Regions from separate parts of the Homo sapiens genome. Here region 2 is linked to region 1. The links come from fine-mapping of genetic effects on gene expression. A gene starts in region 1. The other region holds a variant in brackets. All regions are shown on one strand. Distances are between the middles of the regions.

Region 1 (11,395 bases):
AGTTTCTCCTTCTTCTGCCAGGCCCCTGCCTGCTCATCCCTACCTACCTCACAGAGCTCTGTTAATTAATAAGAAGATGCACACAAAAGAGCTTGTGAAGCCTAAGTACAAGGAGACCATCTCCATGTTGGAGAGGAATCCCAGTACCATGCAAAGAGCTCTAGGCACCAAGGAAAAACTTCCCTTTTGCCCTCTGAAGTTCCACTGAAAATCAACTGAAAAAAAAAAAGGCAGATTCATAGGCGAAAAGGCATGCAAATTTTAAAATGTGCACAGGAGTCTTTCAAAACACAACTCAAAGAAATGGCCAGAGGGTGGACGCTTTCATATTCCATCTTGAAGTTACAGGAAGAATGGGGGCTTATGGTGTGTGGCAAAATAGGTTGGGGGGTGGTGGAGAAGAGGAGGCCTGGCTGGTAAAGTTGGGCTTGTTATGCAGATGAAACCTCACAGGTAGCAGGCCTAAGAGAGGACAGATTGTGTGTGTGTGTGTGTCTTTCAGACAGTTAAGGTGTTGAACTCTCAGTTAACCTTTCTTAGATCTGGATATGGGAGGTTCCACAGAGAAAGCCTGGCTGCATCAGTGCAGAGTTCTCTCTCCAGATGCAATCTCCCCAGTAAAAGACAGCCTTGCAGGGCTACTTCTGTTTGGAGGCCCTCTGAACAGCCATCTCAAAATATGTCAAATAATAGAGTGAAATATTTTGTTTCCTTCACGACACAGGCTTGGGCTCAGTCCTGAATTCAAATCCTGGCTCCTCCCCTTATTAGCTGTGCTGATGGAGGCAAGCACTTATCTTTCCTAAGCCTCAAGTTCCCATCTCTTTTATGGTCTTGGAGGACTGGATATGATAACACACCCGAGCTTCCTAACAGACTCCCCAGCACACGACAGGTGGTAAATATATGGTTAGTTTTCCTACCTCTTCCCTTCTACCCCTATTGTGAAATTGTCTTAGGCAGGTTTTAAGGACCTTTCAGGGAGCACTTCAATCCCTTTTCTCAACTCTCTGAGAGGCAGAGCTTCCCATTTAAGCAAGAATGGCTTGCTACAGGCCAGAAATGTATTGAATTGCCCAGAACTAATGTTGTTTTGTTTTTTCATCAGATATCACGAAGCTCTGGTATAAAGCACGGATTGCATTTTTGTGTTGTTTTCTTTTTATTTATTTCAACGCCAAACAGCCATACGCAGCGTTGTTACAGAAAACATTCAAACAACACAGAAATCTGTATAGTAAAAATTGCAAGTCCTTACCTCAGGCACTTTGCGATGGATATTTAGGGTGCTGCGGTTCAAGCAGCCTAGGAAATAACATTTTTCTTTCTAGCCTGAAACTTGAACCAATTGAGAAATAAGATCAAGACAGATGCGGCCAAATATCACTTTATAAAGTCAGTATTGCAGAATGTGGTTTATACTTGTAGGCAAGTGGGTTTCCTAACTAAACCCCAGAATTAGAGAGACAACAGTTCATACTGGACCAGTTCCAGTAGAGCCTCGACCACTAATCACAGCCTGGCCCAGGGAAATCCAGTTACAGGCTCTCTGTAGGGGGGCACACTGTCAAAGGAAGGAGAGAGGAGGGGACCGAACTCATGCCAGTTCCTTATTCCAAATGCATCAATCATGTAAGCTGGCCTCACCTGTGTATACGTGCCTGCATGCATGCTTGCGTGTGGGTGCACATGAGAGAGAGGTGGGGGATAGACAGACAGAGAGAGGGAAGGGGTAGAAACAAGTCAGGAGCATTATAGTAATGACTGCTGCCCATGAGAAAGAAAGAAATAAGGGTGATTCCCTTTCCCCATATATCATCTCGTTTCCTGCCACTGTCATAGTGCTTCCGCAAACATCCTTGCACATTTCATTAGGCCCTTGGGTGAGTATTTATGTAGAAAGAGTTTCTAGCAGGGGGTTGGTGATTATGTATACTTTAGGTTTGATGTGTACTGAGCATTGGTTTTGGACCTAGGAGCTGAATGGATTTTCCTCCCTTTTATTTCTGCTGGGATTTACCAGCCTCAATTTACTAATAGTCTCTTCCGGTAGGGAAGGCTGCTAAGGACAACACATTGTTACCTTAACAGCTGCATGGCCTTCTGCGTAAGGGCCAGTTACAGAGAGTCGGGTCAGCCATGTAAGGGTAGATTCAGGCTTTCCTGTCTGAGCCTCTGAGTTGCAGTACCCAGACATGTAATGAATCCTCCTCCACCTCCAATGCCCTCCTCTGTCAAATGGACATCGTATCACCTAGGGGTGTGAGGGAGAATTAAATGAGCTGATGTACTTAAAGTGCCTGGGAGAAAGATCAAGAAAGGAGGAGAGAGAAGAAGGAAGGGAGTGGGCACCAGTGCAGACTAAGGAAAATTGAGTTTGCAAGACCCATCTAGTGCTGGGCCCAGTGGCTCATGCCTGTAATCCCAGCACTTTGGGAGGCCGAGGTGAGAGGATCTCTTGAGCCCAAGAGTTCAAGACCAGCCTGGGCAACATGGTGAGACTCTCTTTTTTATGTAACAGTAAAAAAGGGCCATCGCCCTGTACTAAGAGGCCAAAAGAGACGCCTTGTACTAAGAGGACGTCTTGTACTAAGAGACGCCTTGTACTAAGAGGCCAAAAGCAAACCTCCAGGATACACAGCACCGATGGAGAGGGCTACTGGGACTACCTGCCTGAGGCTTAAATAGCCTCCCAGGGGGTTCATCCTCAGGACGGTCCCCAGATGCCTGAGTGTACCACAGATCCTCCTTGGTCATCATCAAAGGAGGAGTTCATGGGAGTGAAACTTCATGGAATTAGCGCTAATGACTTCAATAATGAAAAAATCGGAAATAAAGTGCAAGGTAGCTATCGGGGGGAATAGATGCAATGGGCCTCGACTGTGTGACAACTTTCAGTCCGAGAGTGGGTATTATCAGACGTGTTGTTAGGGATGAGAAAGCCGAGGCTTACAAAGGTGACCTAAGTTGCCCACCGGCCCCCAGCGAGCTTGCGCTTTCTGTCCGTGGACTCCAGAGACAGTGCTCTTTCCGGACCCGGGGTTGGGCGGGATTGCCGCGTAGAAGGCTAAGCCAGCGTGCCCTCTCCTGGCCTCCTCCAGCTTGGGCCCAGCCTGCGGGAGCCGACTCCGGGTCCCCGCGCCCTCCCTCTGCCTCCTCCCCTGCCAGCCTCCGCGCCGACCCCGCGCCAGTCCCTGCCGGGTGGAGGAGGCGCGCCGGCAAAGCCGCGTCCTGATCAATGGGGCGGGCGGCTTAGCGCGCGCGGCCACCTGGTCCGAGGAGGAGCAGTCCCGGGGCCCGCCGCAGGTCGGGTGGCTCAGCCATGGCTCCTCGGGGCGCAGCGGCCGGCCGGAGCCCGGGACCCTGCGCGGGGCGCTGAGCTCCCGAGCGGGCAGAGGGCACGGGCAGGCGGACGTCGGGGCGCCCTCGGGGAACGTGCGGGCACCATGCGTCCCCACCTGTCGCCGCCGCTGCAGCAGCTACTACTGCCGGTGCTGCTCGCCTGCGCCGCGCACTCGGTGAGTACTGCGCCCTTCTGCAGGCTGGGGACCCGAGGGAGCGACAGTCTCGCCCTTTCTCCGGCCTCGGGCAGGATGCAGGTGGAGAGGGACTAGCAGATCTTCCCATGAGGAATAGGGACTCTTCCCTCCCAATCCTCCCAACATTAATCTCTCCCAGCTCTTCTCCGGAGGGACCCTTTCCCAAAGAAAAACATCGTGCGCGCCAGACGAAGGCGGCTCTAAGATGAATCCCTGTGCCCACCACCGACCCCTTCCTCTGGTCTGGCTTCTGAAACTCTCCTACACGGAAATTCTGGAGCCGCCCGTGGCAGTGCCTACTGTGTCCTGGGCGCTTTGCCTCCAATCTTTCCTTGAAACCTGGTAATCACCTTTCGAGGCTGCTATTATCACCGTCACTTTACAGACAAAGAAAGGAAAGGAAAGGAGAGGAGAGGGGGAATAAAAATTCTTGCTGCAAGTCAGAAAAAGAGGATTGGAACCCACATCAGTATCAGTCTGCCCCCAAACCTTGACATTTTCACACTCACGGGCTGCGGATGGGAAAACCTGAGGGAGCTCTGGCAGGAGCTTCTGGGTCTGCGATGGGACCGCCTGCCGCTCTCCCCACACCGTCTCGTGTGGGATGCGGCTCCCTAATGTCTGCGTGCCTGGTGGCTCCAGGGCGCTGCTGTTCCCCAAAGCCAGGTCCTGGCAAGGGGCTGGAGGAGGAAAATAATAATAATAATAATAATAATAATAATAATAATAATAATAATAATAGCGGCAGGATGGGTGGTTTGTTTTTCTTTCCAACAGAAATTCCTGGGAGTCCCGGGCCTCTCTGAGCTCCGGGATCTCTGATAAAGAGAGTGGCCCCACCCAGACCAGCAGAAAGGAAGGAATGGGGAGGGAGTGGGGGTTAGAGGTGGGGGCCAGATTCCAGAATCATCCCTTCCCACTAGCATTCCAAATTGGTCCCCAAGTCGTCTCTTCCAAGAAGCTCCCCAGGGAACGCGCTTGGGGACCCAACTGAGTCTCTGATCTCTGTCCTGGGCAAGTCTCATGGTGTCCAGCCTCCTTGTCTTCCCTTAGTCTCCTCTGGTTTGATTATAAGGAAAACCAATGCTCCCGGAGCCGACCAGAGTGTTGACACTCAGGAGATGCTCATTTTTCTGGTAGCCCCAAGACTTTCAGCAGCAGTAGTTGGGATGAGTGCAATTTGGAGCTTGCTTGGAGCTCCCTTGCCACCGTGGAGCCTCCTCTCTTCAGTGGCAGTGCTGGCCTTGGAAGACGCTAGAGCAACAGCATGCACTCATGAGTTTTGACTCCCAATTTGGAGAAATGCCAACTGGGATACTGGGGACAGTGCAAAGCCAGGTAGAGCCAGAAGGTGTGTTATTCCGTGGCTGGGGGTGGGAGAGGCAATAGCTCCTTCCTTGGGACCCTCCCAGCCTCCTTCTTAAGTATTTGCAGTGACTCTGAGACTGTCGTAACTGGTACCTCGAGTGCAGGACTGAGGTTCAGCCTACATTTTTATCTCAAGGAAATCCCTGGATTATCACAGGAATAAATGGAAGGGGAAAATGAGAGGCTTCACTTGGTTTAAGTCTTCAGTGTACCTTGGAAGGATGCTTCATTATGCTATGGTCCCAATCCCTCATTTTAAAAATGAGCACACTGAGACTCTCAGAGAGAAGGGAGCTGCCCGAGATCAGCAAGTTAGTAGTAGAGCCGGGACTAGCAGCTCTACTCGCCCCACATACCCCACTTAACCCACTAAGGTTAGCACCCAGATCTCTTGATTCCCAACCATCCAGGGCTCTGTCTTTTATACCCCTTGTATTTCCTTTTTCTTTTTCTTTTTTTTTTTTCTTTTGAGACAGAGTTTCACTCTTGTTGCCCAGGCTGGAGCGCAGTGGCGCGATCTTGGCTTACTGTAACCTCCGCCTCCCAGGTTCAAGGGATTCTCCTGCCTCAGCCTCCCAAGTAGCTGGGATTACAGGCATGTGCCACCATGCTCGGCCAATTTTTTGTATTTTTAGTAGAGATGGGATTTCTCCATGTTGGTCAGGCTGGTCTGAAACTCCTGACCTCAGGTGACCTGCCTGCCTCGGCCTCCCAAAGTGCTGCGATTAGAGGCATGAACCACCGCGCCCGGCGGTCCCTTGTATTTTCAAATGTGCATTACTGCCTTACATAATCACAAGATGGTTTCCTGTGTATAAGTCGTGGTCCTTGGGTTATTTTACGGCTTCTGTAGACCTTAGATCTCACACTTCTTGGCTGAGAACTCCTGTAATAAATAGGAGTGGAACTGACCTACTTTGGTTGGAATATTTCCCAGCCTCTGGAGCCCTGCTTTCCTTCTGTTTGACTCTGGGTGGTCACACATTTGATTTTGAAATCTAAGTGTGTTCAAATAATTTTTTATTCATTTGAAGCTCCCCCTTGAGGGAGATTATAGGCATCTTCCCAATGGAGGGGGGTCAGTGAGGCCAAATTGCTTATTACCGCTCTCCCTCTACTCCATATAGGGAGGCGTCAGAAGTGACCCTTGTAAGTGAAACCCAAAAAGTGGCCGAATGGGGCAGTTTTCTGAGGCCTCCCTATAAGAAATACTGATCACAGCCCCCTCTGCGGCCCCACCCCCATACATCTCATGAGAACTTTTACCTGGAACATTACTGTAATTATTTACTAACACATCTGTCCCCCAAACCCCAATATGCACACTTTGAACTTGAACATGGAGACTCATCTTGTTCATCTTTCATCCCTAGAGTCTGTCACAGTGTAAGAAGGAGCTCAGTGAGTGTTTGTTGAATGAATGCATGGATGACTGAATGAAATCATGCTGATGCAGCAACAAATAAGGAAGAATCACCTCTTGAAAGCACTCCTTACTTGCTAAATTGTACAGAAATGTGTCAGGCTGTAGAGAAAGAGTCACTCAAGGTAGGGCTTTTTAATCCATGACATTTGGCAAACTGCCAATTTGTTAACCTTAGTGAGTTAAGTGAGGTGTGTGGGGCTGGTTTTTCCTTCAAGCAGAGTTTCTTCACACTACTGACATTTGGAGCCAGATAATTCTCTCTTCTGAGAGCTGTCCTGTGCATTGTACAATGTCTAGCAGCATCATGGACCTCTGCCCTCTAGAAGCCCATGATCACTCCAAAGCTGTGACAACAGAAAATGTATCTCTAGACATTGCCAAATTTTTTCTGGGGGTAGGAAGGGCAAAATCGCCCCTGCTTGAGAACCGTTGCCTTAAAGGTTGTCATGTTTCAGGACAGATACACAGATAGGGCTAACAATAGGTATTCATTTCACATTGGGTTTGGGGCAGTGGGGTTGGTGATACGGCATCTGAGTCAGAGGATGGAAACAGGTGTGCCTGATGAAAACCAGTTTCCAAACTGGACAAAGGACTTCTGTGGAGAATGTTTCCTTGATCTATTCCACCCTCCCTTCCCATCTTTTTCCCTCCTATCTCCATCCCTCCTCAGTTGATGGCTAAGAAATATAAAAATTCCAAGTACAGGCTCTGGCACATGGAAGCCTTCAGTACATGGTGGTCGCTGCCCTGTCCGGTCATGCATCTGGATCCAGAAGCTGACAAGCCCTGTGGCTGCACAGTGAGCAGAACCTTAGAAAGGCCTGCAAGCGTTGCCTGCAGAGCTGGTAATTACCCTGTTGCCCGGGCTGGAGTGCAATGGTGCGATTATGGCTCACTGCAGCCTTGAACTTCCTGGCTCAAGTGATCTTCCCACCTCAGCCTCCCAAGCAGCTGAAACTACAGACACCTGCCACCATCCCCATCTAATTTTTTAATTTTTTTAGAGATGGGTCTCACCATGTCTCCCAGGTTGGTCCTGAACTCCTGGGCTCAAGTGATCCTCCTGCCTTAGACTCCCAAAGTGTTGGGATTATGGGTATGAGCCACCATGCCCAGCCTGGGAGCTGATTATTGATGACTTTTCAGAGAGGGTCACTGGGGATTTTTTTTGTGTACCTGGAAAAACACTTTCTAGTTTTCTGAAGAAGTATTTGTGGATTTCTTTTGAGATTTTTATTATCCCTGAAGTTAATAAGTGAAGGATGATGAAGGCTCCTTTAATTGACTCTTATTTTCTACCAGACACTCTGCTGAGTCCCTCCTAACACTAACACTCACTTCAACAGTTATTAGCCCCATGGTGCAGATGAGGAAACTGACACTTGGATAGATGTGAAGCCATTTGCTTAAGGCCACCCAGCTGGACATGGTGACATGAGACCTTAAACCTGGAACTTCTTTTTTGTTTTTTTTTCTTTTTTTTTTCTTTGTTTTTCTTTTCTTTTTTTCTTTTTTTTTTTTTTTTTGAGACAGAGTCTCATCTCACTCTGTCACCTAGGCTGGAGTGCAGTGGCGAGATCTTGGCTCACTGCAACCTCCGTCTCCCAGGTTCAAGCGATTCTCCTGCCTCAGCCTCCTGAGTAGCTGGGACTACAGGCATGCACCACAATGTCTGGCTAATTTTTGTATTTTTTAGTAGAGATGGGGTTTCACCACATTGGCCAGGCTTGTCTTGAACTCCTGACCTCGTGATCCACCCACCTTGGCCTCCCAAAGTGCTGGGATTACAGGCGTGAGCCACCGCAGAGCTTCTTAACCAGCACATGCATCTGCTCCAAAAGAGAGGCCTGTTCCGGGTTTCTGGTGCCCAAGGAGCTGTCATAAAATTATCTCCCAAACTTCAAAATAGCATTAATTTTCATTTAAACTAATCAATTTGTGAAACATAAAAAAATACTGAGTTACACACAGCATTTATTGAGGGGCCCAGAAATGAGCATGGGGTCACAAAATCCAACAGGAGGAGATACCAGTTCCCAAACAGTTTAGGGGAGTCCACTTAGGCGGAGCGCGGTGGCCCATGCCTGTAATCCCAGAACTTTGGGAGGCCGAGGCGGGTGGATCACCTGAGATCGGGAGTTTGAGACCAGTCTGAGACCAGTCCGACCAACATGGAGAAACCCTGTCTTTACTAAAAGTACAAAAAAATTAGCTGGGCGTGGTGGCCTGTAATCTCAGCTACTCGGGAAGCTGAGGCAGGAGAATCGCTTGAACTTGGGAGGCGGAGGTTGCAGTCAGCTGAGATCATGCCATTGTACTCCAGTCTGGGCAGCAAGAGCAAAACTCCGTCTCAAAAAAAAAGGGGGAGTCCACCTGCTTTGGCATCGTCACCCTTTGGAGTTCCCGCAGAACTTCCCAACCTCACCCTGTCCTCATGATCCCCACCCAGGTTGGGAAGTCCCCAGATTTCCTACCATGACAAGGGAGGACATAGCCTCTCTTCCTGGCACCCCCTTGCTGAAAGCCTAGATTTAATATCTGGGATTCGAGCTCCACCACCAGAACAGCCTCTTGCAGTGAGCCCCAGCTTGGTCTCTGCATCCCTGCTCTTAGCAAGCTGTAGGTTCTCACCACTGACCTTCACTCAGGCTTCGGGACAACCTGCAGCTCAAGGTAAAACCACAATACTCAGATGCTATCTACTTGCTTACATTACAAACAGAAGGCTGCTCAGCATTCCTATGGACTCCTGGGGCCCACCCAGCCTCTACATTGTGCGTCTGTTCCAAGGATGGCATTTGGGGAGGGTCATCCCTGGTTCATCACGTCCCGCAGTCTTAGCCCATTGTGCTGCAGGCTCCTGAGGTTCCCAGAGTCATCTCCAGATCCTGCCATGCCCCACCCCACTTCCCTCACCTGAGGCTCTTAGGCGTGCTCCTGATGGCCACGTGTCTTTCAAATTTCTCACCTCCCGCCTCCCTCTCATGTTCAACAGATGGGCTCACCTTCCATTTCCCAAGAGTTGAGACTACCTGGATGAACTTCTAACCAACATCTTGCCCTTACAGATGTGTCTAAATTGTACCCTCTGTTCCTTTCCTTCCCGTCTGTCTTAGTCAGCTGTGTTATCATAACAAAATACCACAGACTTGGGGACTTAAACAAAAGAAATTAATCTCGCGGTTCTGGAGGTTGGAAGTGTGAGATCAAGATCCCCAAGGGTTTGGTCTCTGGTGGGGACCCTCTTCCTGGCTTGCACATGGCCACTTTGTCCTCATGTGGCATTTCCAGTGAGTGTGTGGATGCAGGGGAGGGGAGGGAAACACCTTTCTGGTATTTCTTCTTGTAAGGACACTAATCCTATAGGATCAGGGCCCTATTACTACAATGCTGTTTAACCTTAATTACCTCCTTATGGGCCCTACCTCCAAATACAGCCACCCTGGGGGTAGGGCTTCAACATATGAATTTAGTGGAGACACATTCAGTCCATAACAGCATCCAAGTGGAAGAGAGGCTGTTCCCCAGACAACAGCCTGTCCCTACTCCTACCCCTACCGACTTCCTTCCCAGGACAACACAATGACAGCCATCTCACCCAACCTTCACCCTCTTCCTCTCCGCTGACTTTTCTCATCAGCTGGTTAACTTCCCCAAGTCTATCCAGCCCAGGCAGTAAATAGCCCTCTGCTCTCTGCCCCCTGGTGGCCAGCTTCCTGTAAGACGCGTCCACCTTCATTGCCTCCACTTCACTCACTCTCACACTGCAACCTGGCTCCCACGCTCCACCCACAGAAACCAGCCTCACCAGTGCCCTTCGATTTGCCACATTCACTGGATTCTTTTTTATAATCTTTTTTAAAAAATAAAAATTGTAGACTAAGCACGGTGGCTCACTCCTGTAATCCCAGCACTTGGGGAGGCTGAGGCAGGTGGATGGCTTGAGCCTGGGAGTTCAAGACCAGCCTGGGCAACATAGGAGACCTTGTCTCTACAAAAAATTTTAAAAATTAGCTGGGTGTGGTGGTGTGTGCCTGTAGTCCCAGCTACCCAGGAGGTTGAGGCGGGAGGAATGCTTGAACCAGGGAAGTAGAGGCTGCAGTGAGCCATGATTGTGCCACTGCACTCCAGCCTGGGTGAAAGAGTGAGACTCCGTCTCAAAAAAAAAAAAGCACTTAAAGTGTACAACATGATATTTTGAAATACACAGTGAAGTGATTACTATAGTCAAGCAAATTAACATATGTTTCTTCACAAAGTTACCATTTGTGTGCATGTGTGTGTGTGTGTGGTAAGAGCACCTGAAATCTACTCTTATGGCAAAATTCCAGTGTACGATACAGTGTTATTATTATTGTTATTACTTTTGAGACAGAATTTCGCTCTTTTTGCCCAGCCCAGAGTGCAATGGTGCGATCTCAGCTCACTGCAACCTCTGCCTCCCGGGTTCAAGAGGTTCAAGTGATCCTCCCGCCTCAGCCTCCCGAGTAGCTGGGATTAGAGGCATGCGCCACCATGCCTGGCTAATTGTGTATTTTTAGTGGGGACGCGGTTCCACCATGTTGGCCAGGCTGGTCTTGAACTTCCGACCTCAGGTGATCAGCCCACCTCAGCCTCCCCAAGTGCTGGGATTATAGGCGTGAACCACCACACCCGGCCCGATACAGTATTATTAACTATAGTCTTCATGCTGTACATTAGATCTCTAGACTTATTCATCCTGGTGTAACTGCAACTTCATACCCTTTGACCTATATCTCTCCATTCCCACCCCCTCCCAGGCCCTGGCAACCACCATTCAACTCCCTGCTGCTTTGTATTCAACTTTGTAATATTCCACATATAAGTAAGATCATGCAGTATTTTTCTTTCTGTGACCAGCTTATTTCACTTAGCACCATGTCTTTCAAGTTTATTCATGTTGTCACTAATGATAGGATCTCCTTTTTTAAAGCTGACTGGCATTCCATTGTATATATGCAGCATGTTTCTTCATCCATTCATCTGTTGAGAGACACGTAAGTTGCTCCCACATCTTGGCAATGGTGAATAGTGCTTC
Region 2 (12,040 bases), 85 kb after region 1:
ATGCCCATCATGAGCATTTCTTCATGTCATTAAAATTCTTCAAAGTCTTCATCCTTAATGATCGCAGAATCACGGTGGAAATTAGTAAACTTGCTGGCTTGTGTGAGGCCTGCCCTATATACACTGGAGCACAGCTAACTCCCTCCCCTGAACAGTGAAAATGTGTCCCTGGACCCTAGCGCAGCGGAGGCCAGGCAACCCTAGCCCATGCAACGGGCAGCATCCTTGGCCTGCTCGTGGCTCTGGGCCAAGCACACAGAGCTCCAGGCATGCCTAAACCCCTCCGTGCCTCAGTTCCCTCGCTTGTGAGGTGAAGATCCTCCCACCTGCCTCCGAGAGCTTTGGCGAGGTTAAATGAAGCACCTGGGACCTACAATTACTCAGGCCTAGCTGTGCTCCGATCCAAGTCTGTTTCATTTCAAAGCCTGCCTTGAAGTGCCTTTTACTCCCTCTCTGACAGTAGTTCCCGGACCATGATGCCCGTTTTTTGGAACTGTGTGGGGATCTTTAAAAGCTGCTGATGCCCCCAGCTACTGGGATCTGGGGAGTGCAACCTGGATAAAAGGTCCCAGGTGATTCTAATGTGCAGCAATACTTGGAAACCGATGCCCTGAGTGTTTCTGCCCCTCAAATAGTCCCCAGTCTATGTAGCAGTCATTGATACCTGAAATTCTAAAGCAAACCCTTCCAGCTTCGCCACTAACTCTTTTTAAAATGCCAATATCCCTGAGAAGTTGTACATATTAAGCCCACCATCGATGAGCTGATTCATCACCCTTCGAGGTTCCTTTCCAATATCATAAGTAGCTACAGGCAGGCCTGGGTGGGACTAGGGAGGAGGAGTTGGGCCATCTGAGGTCAGGCCTCTGTGTGGGGAGGGCAGGCCCGTAAGGGAGAGAAGGGTGGCCTGAGGTGGGTCCCTGAGAAAGGAGAGGAGCAGGGTGAATGCGCCGCAGAGACACTGCTTCCTGCTGATCTGGAGGCCTCTTAGGCTCCAAGCAGGCGCCCCAGCCTGGAGTCCCTCCCCTGACAGAGCTCCACACCAGGATCCTGGGGGCACCATCAGGAAATCAGGAGCTCCAAATACCAGGGAGGGAGGGTCTTACAGGCACAGACCTTGCCACACCAGGGAACATAAAACTCTGAGCACGGAGGTGCACCCACCTGTCCATTAAGCAGGGAGCTCCAACCCTGCTCACCACTGGCTGGCCGGGACCTGTACATAGTTTGTTCTGCCTACACATTTGTTTTTCAATTTGAATTAGTTATCTACATTTAAACATATTCAGATTTCCAGTTTATCTTGAAATAAGACCACACAGGGCCCAGGGTCTCACCCTGGGCAGCCTGCACTCCTCCTGGCAGAGTGGGCGGACTTCAGGTGCCACCCATCCCTGTGGCTCCCAGGTGAGCTTCCTGATCCCGGCTGGCTGGGTTAGCAGCCCCCCTGACACCATATGTGTTCAAAAGGGAGCCTACCCTTGGCTGCAAGGAGTTCACAGTTTATGCTGGATGAGCCAGCACAGCCAGGGCCACCGTGGGCAGCCCACAAGAGGTAGCCTAATTCCCAGTGAGGCAAGAGAGGTGGGGAAATGAGCCTGTAGCTGGTGATTAAGAGACCTGGGGAGGGTGCAGCTGGCCAGCTGGTTCAGGCCGCATGCTGAGCACCTGTGCTAACCCTGCTACCTCTCTTCTTCTGGCAGGGACTGGTGGTGGCCGTCCTCTACTGCTTCCTCAATGGGGAGGTGAGTAGTCTTGGGTCACCCAGGTACCCAGGAGAGCTCCTAGCCATTGGTTTCCGGGTCAGAAGGAGCTACCTGGGAGGGGTGGTAGGAAGGGGGATGGAAAGGGTCAGAGGGAGTCCTGGGTCTGGTGGCAGGTGGCTTGGCCAGTTCTTTTAGGAGTCTGAATTTGCTTAATGGGAGCAAGGCTTGTTCAAACCATGGCTGGACCCTGTTCCTAGTTTCTCATTCCACAGAAATAAATTCTGTAGGTCTGGACTGGGGTCTGAGAAAGTGTTTTTTAACAAGCATTCCTGGTGCCGATGTTGATCTGTTCAGCAAATGCAGGAGGAAAGTTGGGCAGAACCCAGGTTCCTGACTGCCCTGCTGCTTGCTTAATGGGCGATCTCAGTCACTGCCCTGTTCTGGGCCTCAGTCTGCCCATATGTGAAACGGGTGACTCAGAACTGTCTGCAGCTCAATCCTTAGGGACCTCCAGATGAGCACTGACTCCTTGGGAGACTGCACACTCACTTTGAGGACTCGAGCCTCACATGGAGCATCTGGGTCAGGACCCCAGGCTCTGGGCATACAGAGCTATGTGGTTAACATGAGCTAAGGCTTTCTGTGACTACTGACCATCTATCTGGTTTGTTGCACTTGAATGGGAGTGATCTTTGATGTTTCCCAAAAATCAAATATCAAGCCTAGCTTCAAAGGTTCAGCTGCTGCAGCTGGGAATTGTGAAGGAAATTTACAAAGAGAAACTCCCTAGTTCCCAGATCAGTTCTGAGCTTGGGTGGCTTCCTGGGAATAAGTGGGGACCCATCTTAAATCACTTAAAATCACTGGGGACCCATCACTGAGTGGAGTCAGGCCTTGCCCTACCCACACCTTCAGACCACACCCTCCTCTAAGCTGGCCCTCTGCCCAGTAGCCCCTGTCAGTGCCCCAGACCTTCAGAGAACTCAGCCTCTGGCTTAATCCGGGATTCTTTTCCTCTCAGCCTGGGGGCCAGGGAGCTAGCTTTCCCCACCACTGCTCTTGTAATGTCAAGGGCACACACTTGTCCCAAGGTGCACAAGTCCTTTCTTTAAGACACGATGTAATGAGATTGCAGGTGCATGTGCCCAGGAGAGAGGGGACCCTCAGTAGCTACTGGACATTGGGGCTGGAAACAGTCAATCTGCGTGGCCTGCAGGCTAGGGGACAGGGCAGCTGGGCAGGAGTGGCAGGGCCTGCGTGGAGTCACTGGGGGAGTGAGCAGGGCTCCAGGCACAGAACTGTCCTCTCCTCCTGGGCTGATGGCTGGTCTCCCGGGCAGGTGCAGCTGGAGGTTCAGAAGAAGTGGCAGCAATGGCACCTCCGTGAGTTCCCACTGCACCCCGTGGCCTCCTTCAGCAACAGCACCAAGGCCAGCCACTTGGAGCAGAGCCAGGGCACCTGCAGGACCAGCATCATCTGAGAGGCTGGAGCAGGGTCACCCACGGACAGAGACCAAGAGAGGTCCTGCGAAGGCTGGGCACTGCTGTGGGACAGCCAGTCTTCCCAGCAGACACCCTGTGTCCTCCTTCAGCTGAAGATGCCCCTCCCCAGGCCTTGGACTCTTCCGAAGGGATGTGAGGCACTGTGGGGCAGGACAAGGGCCTGGGATTTGGTTCGTTTGCTCTTCTGGGAAGAGAAGTTCAGGGGTCCCAGAAAGGGACAGGGAAATAAATGGTGCCTGGGATGAGATTCAATCTATATTTGTCCATCCTTTTGCCTTGACACAAGGTGAGGGTGTACGCTCTTGCCTGCTCCCAATGCCTTCCCGCAGGAGGCGGGCTCCTCCCTGGTCCCCCAGCTCAGTTACTCAGGGACCAGATTAGAAGGCCCAGCCAACATGAAATGTTTGCCCTTGGCGGATGCTGTCTGTCTCCTACTGTAACTCACCTGGTTAGCAGCTCTCACCCAAACCTTCAGGACAACAGCTAAAATAATATGATAAAGTCACCACGGAGGCCAGGGAAGCCCCAGGGCCCCCAGTCCCTTTTACTATCCCCCCTTTTACTACCCCCAACAGGGTGTGAGGGGGACACCCCTATTTTTCCTGCTCTTCCACACAGATGTCCTCGGCCTGAGGCAGACACAGCAGGAAATGGGGCATGATCCCATTTCAGAGAAGACAGGTCCACCAAAGCCCTGTGACTTGCCCAAGCTACTAAGCAAAGAGGTGGCGGAAGTTCAGTCCAGGGCCTTTGACTTCAAATGCCCATGCTCCAAGGCTGTGTCTGTGCTCTCCCTGCTCCCAGGCAGGGAAGGACAGGGGCCATCTGCTGCCCCTCTAAGCTCCTGGGGACTTCAGTCTCACCCTCCACTCTCGTTCTTGGTTCCTTTGAATATCTGCACTCCCTGCCCCCATGTGAGGATGAAAAAGGACTCCATTTTTGAACGCTTCTGCAAAACCAAACCTACTAGTGCTCAGGGGGTAGCGTTCTGGAGGGAAGTAGAGAAACTCCCCTCCGTGTCAAGGAAAAGGCATCCTGCTGGTGGGTGGGTCAGCTCTACTCCCAGCTTTGGGTGACCCTGGACAAGTGCATCCCTCTCTGGGCCCTGACTCCCCACCTCCATACATCCCCTCCCCGTGAAGAAACCAGGGGGTTACACATCCCCTTTGCAACTTGTAGATTGCTCCAGGTTCCCATTTCCCAGGCTAAGATGCCGCCAGTGTGGTTGATGAGCTCTGTACTCTGTAAAACTGAGCAATTCATGGAAACCTTTCCAGGATGATCTCCATGGACTCTGGGCACCTTGGTGGTTCAACCTTAAAGCCCATGGCCTTATATCCTACAAAGCAGACAGCTTCATGACTCCATGCATCCTGGAATAAAAAATTTAAAACATCACAATAGACGTAGGTATAGGCACTCAGCCCAGACCAGGAAAGGAACCTGCAGCAGTGACAAGACCGGGGCAGAGACCAAAAACCCATGCAATTGCTGGGAGCCAGAATTCAACAGGTGAGGGAATGGGAAGGAGTCAGTGTAGAATGAAATGGGCTGAGGGCAATAACATCACCTACTTCTGGGCAGAAAAAGGACTAGAAAGGGAGCACTTTAATGAACAGAAGTACAGACGTGCTGGCAAGGATGGAAATCTCCACTGGTTCCTGGCCCCCTTCACCTCCATGCATCCCCAGCATGGGTGTTAATCATTACCCAAGCTCTCGCTGTTCCCCCTCACCCCCTGCAGAGTCCAGCAGGTCTAGATACGTGCTCTTTGAAATGTGTTCTGGGATTAAAAATGGTGCCCTGAGGCTGTCTAACCCTCACAAAAGACAGACACATGCACACACGGGCCTTGGGGAGGGCTGTGTATTAGCAGTCAGGTGGGCCCTCCTGGGAGAGCTTGCTCAAGAACTCTTCTCGGAAGGAAACCCACCTTAAGGTAGGGTTCTGATAGGCAGAGCTCCCAGAGGCACAGCCAGCTGCTAGAAGATGGGGTTATCCAGGGTTTGTAAGGTTTAAACAACGGGCAGGGAGGCAAACCGAGTCAAATGGTTTGGAAACCTACTGTGTGCAGGGCATTCTGAGGGAATCCTGAACTCTGCCTCTTTGGCATGACCAAAGCTGAAGCCAGGGACATACATACGAAGGCCCTTTGAGCTGGTGGAAGAAAGTCCTAGGCACTGATTGGACCCTTAGCTGGAAGAATGATCCATTCTTAACAACCCTGGGAGCCCCAGGGATTCTGCAGCCCCTATCCCAGCACGTGTCAATGAAACAGGCATGAACTATCCTTGGCTGTGCAGCTAGCTCAGGTACCAGTTACCCCTGTGCTTCCAACTGTATTCCAGTCCAGGGAAGAAAATTCAAGAAGGAGTTTTAAAATGTTTTTTTCTTCCTCTAAAATCAACATCTGGCTAAGCCTGTGCAGTTGGTGGCACTGAGGCACCCTCCTGGCCTCTGGCCCTGCAGACCAGGTGCAGAGGCCCCCGGGCCATTTCTGGCTGACCACCCACAAGTTATCGGCAAACAGGCAGCCGTTTCAAGGCCCTTGTCCAACCCAGCCCCACCAGAGGCCACATGCTGGAAAAGTCCCATTTTGACCATATTTTCTTGTGGAATCTGATGTCCCTGGAGGGGGCCTAAAATTTCCACGGTCATTCCCAGGGATGGGTGATGCTGTTGATGTGAAGGCCGCTGATGGCGTTCAGGAAGAGGAGGAAGGAGGCAGTGAATTCGCACCAAAACATTAGGGTGAAGCCGATGAGTGTGACTTGGTTCCTGAGGAGGATCACAAAACCCAGGAGCCCGCCGGAGGAGAGGACGAAAGACACCAGGAGGAGGATGGAACCCATGACCCACTTGCACTGTGAGTGTTTGTCCTCGCACAACTGGGACACCATGAGGAACTCCAGGCCAAAAATGGCGGCCACCACGGCCAAGGCGCCCACGCTGCGTACCAGGCCCATGCCCACGGCCAGCCCGGGCACATGGGCCTGGCCCAGGTCTCTGAAGCAGATCG[T/GCACACT]CTGGTTGGTGGTGGTGCAGAAGTGCCAGAGCCCGAAGAGGCGGTCCTCAGCCAGGAGCCAGTGCCCATCACAAATGGAGACCGAGGACAGGACCACAGCCAGGGCCACACACGTGATGATGAGGGTCCGGATGAAGGATTCAAAGAAGGACCGGCGGGGCTGCCTTTGGCCCAAAGGCCTCTGGGCCTGGAAAAAACCGTAGGAAGCACCCTGTCAGCCACAGCCCTGCCACGCCCCCAGGAACCTCTGCAGGGAAGACCCCTGAGCCCTCCATCCTGCTCCGCACTGTCTTATTCTCTGCTTGGTCTCCTGTGAAGCCCGGAACAGACCAGACCCACCGTTTGGGGGGAACCCTTCCTCCCTTCCAGACCTGTGAGCATTTACCATCCAGTATTCACCAGGCACTAAGAGCTTCCTGACCTTTCTTTCTTTTGTGATCTTCAGAGTGGGTGAGAAGTCCAAACCGACTGGCAAATCTGAGTCAGTTCTGAGTTCAGAAAACCTGTCGTGCCTGCATCCCATGACCTTGAGCATGCAGCCTGCCTCGGTTTCTTTGTACATAAAACAAGAATACGGCCTGGCAGAGTTGCCAGGGTTGTACCAAGCACTGAGACATTAGCACACCAATACACAGTTCTGTTTCCCTCCATCTCCCCAGGATACACGATTTTGTCCTAATCCCCACCCACCTGATGATTCGGGAGCTGTCCACGTTCAGCCCAGGACTCTAGATTATTGCCTCGTTTTTCTTGGTACTGAAAGTGACATTTGCATCTTGCCCTCAGACCTGTGCGGCCTGTACCCTACCCAGAGCTTGCCAACCCCATTGTCTGCTCCTGCAGCTTCTGGGCATGGGAAGGCCATTGCAGCTCTCCTCCACTTCCGGTTCAGCCCTGGAAGGAGGCGCCCCCACCCCGGTCTCCTGGCAAGCCAGGCTAGGTGTCCAGTGAGGTGTCTCATCTCACAGTTCAAGGACACCACCCGGGCACTGCACCCAAGCCCTGACCCAGAAAGCAAAAGAAAGACTTCAGGAACTCTTTACACAGCCCACAAGCCTCTCACAATCCGCTCCGCCTCCCCACCCAACCTCAGCTCCCAGCACACTCCCCTCTCCCCATGTCTAGAACTTTCTTTCCTCAGATGACTGGCCCTTAAGCCTGTAGTGGCTCTTCTGCAGCTCCTGCCACCCCTCCAGGACAACACCTCTTCTCCATTCTTCATGTCTCAGCTTAAAGTCTCCTCCACAGAGAGTGCTTTCCTGCCCACTCAACCCAGAGTCAGGCCCCTCCTGGTATTCTGTGTCAGGCACCTGTTCAAATTCTTCACCATTCTGAGGACAGTTTGTAGTTACATATTATTTCTGTCTCATTCCAACACTGTGTGCTCTGGGAAGGCCGCCCCCTACCCCCACACCACCACATTCTGTGTTTAGGCACTGCTGTGTCCCCAATACCTGGGCATTCAGTGGGTGCTCAAGGGAGAGCTGTGAGATAAGTCAAAGGTCATTGGCAACCACTGTCACTTCCGTCTGAAGCTCCTTTAAACTGAGTCTCCTGCACAGTCATACATTAAATGACCTGCTTTGCAGTGTGTCTAGAAGCTGCCCAGGTTACACCTCGGTTTGGGAGGTATGCAAAACAGGCACGCATGACGGTCACTGCTAGGACCCAGGAGAATGGAGCAGTGAGGAACATGGGGTGTGTCCTATGCCATGGGCAAATGGAGGCTTCCTGAGGCAGGTCTGGGCCACTCCTCTCTGTGTGAGACATAAAATAAAGCCCTGCTTCTGGGAGACTCCTGTGGTCAAAGAGCCCAGCAAGAGTATCTGCTCACATGCCCCAGACACAGGAGCTACCGCTAATTTCAACCCCAGGGATACAGGAATAAGGATGCAGTTTGCTTTCAGCACCTCTGCCTTAAGTAGGATCCTATTTTATTCTTAAACCTATGAGGTTGATAAAGTAGGAAGCTCCATGGTGGGTGTACAGAGAAGGAAACTATGCAGAGGGCAGGTGACTTGCCTGAGATCACTCACCTAAAGCACAATGAAGCTCTTTATGGCTGCCCAGACAATTGTATGATATGCAGGAGGTGGAATCCGTTCAGCGAATAAATACTGACTAGGGCCTTCTAAGGACAGGGCCTTTGTGCTAGGGGCTCAGTACTGAGCCCTTACAGCCCTCCCTACATGGGCTGTAAGCTCCTGGATGGGAGGGACCGCACTTGGTCTGTCCCAGCACGCTGCCTGGCCAGGATTCCAGACATGTCCCAGAACAAAGGGGAGGAATTCCCTGTGCCCCATGCCCTCTTGGTGAGGAAAAGGTGCGTGCAGAGGGATGCCTCAAGGGCCATGCCAGAGCTAGGACCAGCCTGGGTCCTAGCTGAGATGAAGGCAGCCTGGGTGCGGTCAAAAACATGGAGCTAAGAGTATGGGCTGTGGTTCTCAAACTGTGTCCCCATGCTCCTGGTGGGGCTTCCAGTGCTGAAGCCGGGTGGGCAGGGAAGCTGAGCAGGCTGGCTCTGCATCCCCTTCCTCACTTCAACTGAGCCCTGTACCTGCTTGGGACATTGGGGGTCCAGGAGTCTGTATTGCATTTTATTACAAAAAAAAAAAAAATCTACCGGTAAGAAAGAAACCAAAGGAAACTTTGAAAACCTGTGTCTACTCCACAAACCATTAGAGGTGTTTGTCCTTGGGCAGTTTCTTAACTTCCTGAGCCCTTGTTTCCTCATCTAGAAAATGAAGTTAATGACACTTGCAGGAAAGTCGTAGCCATGAAGGCACCTGGCAAGGTTACAAGGTCCCTAGAGAATGATAAATGGTCCTAAAAAGGAGGAGCACCACAGGCAGAGAACAAATCACAGGACCCAGAAACCTTTTAACCCGAGACAGCATGCTGGCTGGAAAACAGGCACGTCCTGTCCCTTCTCCAGCCCTACCTGTCCTAGGCAGACTGGACTTTAATCTCCAGGCCCTTAGATGTCACGTCAGGATCAGAAAGTGGAGACAGCTGACCTCATCTAGTTTCCTCCCGCTCCTGCCCCAAAGTAGGGCTTCATTTAAACTCTCTGGCCACCACTGAAACTCCCAGGAATCAAATGAGATCCTGTATATAAAGATGCATGGTACACGGGCCGCTCCCAACTCATGGTAGCTATTAATATTAATAACAATAATAACACATATAGAGTCTTCATTCCTAACCACCCGGCATCTCCACCAGCTTTCAGTGATGCAGGGCCTGAAACGGCTACTGGAGGGCAGCTGGACAAGTGTGCAGTGGAAAAGAAGGGAGCGGGGAGGTCAAGTCCTGCCCCTGACCTAGAGGACCCCTGCAGGGTACCTTTAGGCAATCACTTAAATCTCTCTGGAGCTTAACTGCTCTGCTAAAAATGTAAGCATTTTCCTTTTTCATCTGTAACCTTGCATGATTTCTAGTGACCTATAGAATAGGGTCACTTGACACTACTGGGCTACTGAGTCCAATGTCATGGTCTTCCTCCTATAACCCAGGGCCTCATGTGTTCCCCTTAACCAAAGCACCCCCAGGTAGACAAATTAAGCTCCTCCCAACTCATTCCGCACATCCCCAACATGTCTCCCATATTTGCTCCCCCTCATCACCCACTCTGCCCCTACCCAGGTGAGGCCATCACCATCGTCAACATCCTGGAAGTTCACAGCCTCCTGATGAGCCGGCCTGCCTCTGCTCCTCTCAGCTGCAGCCTGGCCCACCGCTGCCTGCATGACCCAGAACTTGCTTCCTACCTGTGTTTGCCCCCTGGCAAGTCATGGTTGTGGGGATGAAGAGTTATCATCCCGAAGCGGCCGGAGCACCCGCCCTTCACCTGGAGCCTGTGGCCTCCCCAGCTGAGCTCCCACCTTGCTACCAGGCTTCCTCCTCTTCCCCGTCTGGCAACTTTTGCACCTCTTAATTTAGCATTCGCTCCCCCATGCCCTGTTTCCAAGTCTCTCTCCCTACATGGGCTGTAAGCTCCTAGAGGGGAGGGACCGCACCTGGTCTGTCCCACCATGCTGCCTGGCCGGGATTCCAGACATCCCCCAGAACAAAGGGGAGGAATTCCCTGCGCCCCATGCCCGGCTTCGCCCAGGTGCCTAGGTCCTGGCTATAGAAGCGGTTTTGGGGGTGTCCTGTGGGTGGGGTTTCTCCCGTTAGGTAAAGGCAGGAGGAGCCAGTGGGATTTGGAGCCAGAAAGCCCTGGGTTTGAATCTTGATTCTGTTCCTTGGCCAGCCACGGAGGGCACCTTACTTCTGAGTCTCGGTTACCTCATCTATACAATGGGCAGAACGGTGTCTACTAGGTCAGTGTTGTGGCTGAGCGTTTGTACACGAAGTCAACGGGCCTCTCTAATCCTGGAGACAGTCCAGCGGATAGACTCTGCAGCGGGCGAGTTGCGCGGAAAGGAAGTTCGCCCGCTGGGCAGCGGTACCGCCACCCACTGACTTCCCTTTGGGGAGCAGCAGGCCCGAGGGAGCGGGTAGGAATGTGTAGGTTCTTAGCCAACATAAACATCGTGCACTACGCTAAGGAGAAGCCAAATCTTCGGAGACACGGGCTTCTTCCCTCGCCAGAGCCTTTCCCTGAGGTGTCCGCGCGACTCAGCAAGTCCACCCCCAGCCCAGCACCCCAAACGCAGCTTTGGGGAGGGAGACGGTCTTCCTAACCTCCACCCCCAGAAAGGTCTAACTTCCCAAGAGACGCATCCTCTGTTACATAAGCCTCACTTTGCAAGTCGATTCTGTCCCTCCACCCCAGACGCGCCTCATTTCTCACAAAGGGGGACCCTTATGGTAAACTGACCAGTAAGTCACTGGTGACACCAAAGAGAAGAAAAATCTTTCCAAATGAAGTTTGGGAGCCTCGGGTGCTTGCAAGGCCGCGAGCAGAAGCAGCCGGAGTCCGCGCCTCGGGAGCAGCTATGTGAGGCAGGCAGGCCCCCCGAGGTTGCTCCCCGCCCAGCCTCCTCCGGACCCAGGTTTGCAACAGGGGGCGGGCACGGGGGGCGCTCGCACCCCCAGCCCGACGCCGGCGCTCGCGGTGGGTACGCCCCTCCCTCCGTCCTCCCACCCCCAACCTCCCACGGCGGGGCAGCACCCCGGGTCAGCGCCCCGCCAGGCGCCGGCTACCTGCACGCCGACGGCAGTCATGCTGCGCCCGGCGGCCGCGCTGCAGCCTCGATCGCTCCAGCTGCTCCGCTGTGGCCGCCGGCGCCAGCCCGGGACTTCTCCGCAGGGGCGGGGCGGCTGCTGGAGGCGGGCGGGGCGGGAGGGGGCGTTCAAAGCTCGGCGATTAACCCCGGGCGGGCTCCGCCAACCCCGCCGCCCTCCGCGGCTCGGATTACGCTGAGTCAGCGAGGGCGGCCGGAGGAGCCCCTGGGGAGCCGCGGGGAGGACCCGGCACTTGGGGGGAGGGATCCCTCGGGTCCCAGGGGAAAGGATCGGGAAGTCACTCCGACGCTCCCGAACCTCCGAGGACAGCTTCGCCTGGGGCGCAGATTCCTCGAGGGCTGGGACGGCGACGAGGGCCTGAGGGTTCGATTCCTGTTCCAGCTTGCTGAGTCCAGCCTCTGGGAACGCGGCAGGGTCCGAAGGGAGGAGGCAGGCGCAGAGGCTCTGCTGCCCTCACTCTGCGGTGTGACCTTGGGCTGCTTGTTTAGCGTCTCGGAGCCTCGGTTAGTAAGGGAAATAATGAATGTGAAAGGTGGGGCTCTTGCCGGGCCCTCGCTGAGTGTGAACGGAGTGGAACTTTTTGGGGCAATCCTACTTGCGTCCCTAAAAGGGGATGTAAA

Which allele goes with the higher level. Alleles are on the strand shown, and positions count from the first base shown. SD is a standard deviation of normalised expression in the study named.
In carriers of allele GCACACT in region 2, the expression in breast of the gene that starts at base 3,190 in region 1 tends to be higher than with T alone (moderate effect, 0.42 SD a copy in GTEx).

Evidence for each region.
Region 2: its variant is fine-mapped to the expression of SCTR in breast (GTEx, PIP 0.93). The same link has a PIP of 0.9 or more in subcutaneous fat.

The regions. Positions count from the first base shown.
Region 1 is chr2:119,516,278-119,527,672 of GRCh38, reverse strand. SCTR (secretin receptor) reads left to right here and starts at 3,190. Exons shown (of 13, transcript NM_002980.3): 1 at 3,190-3,518. The coding sequence starts at 3,447.
Region 2 is chr2:119,431,263-119,443,302 of GRCh38, reverse strand. It overlaps TMEM37 (transmembrane protein 37), which reads right to left and starts at 11,449. Exons shown (of 2, transcript NM_183240.3): 1 at 11,379-11,449; 2 at 4,799-6,414. The coding sequence starts at 11,399. The coding sequence ends at 5,863. SCTR (secretin receptor) reads left to right here. Exons shown (of 13, transcript NM_002980.3): 12 at 1,704-1,745; 13 at 3,046-3,460. The coding sequence ends at 3,186. RefSeq lists an enhancer at 10,508-11,014 and a silencer at 11,298-11,677. The variant T/GCACACT (reference allele first, on the strand shown) is at 6,228.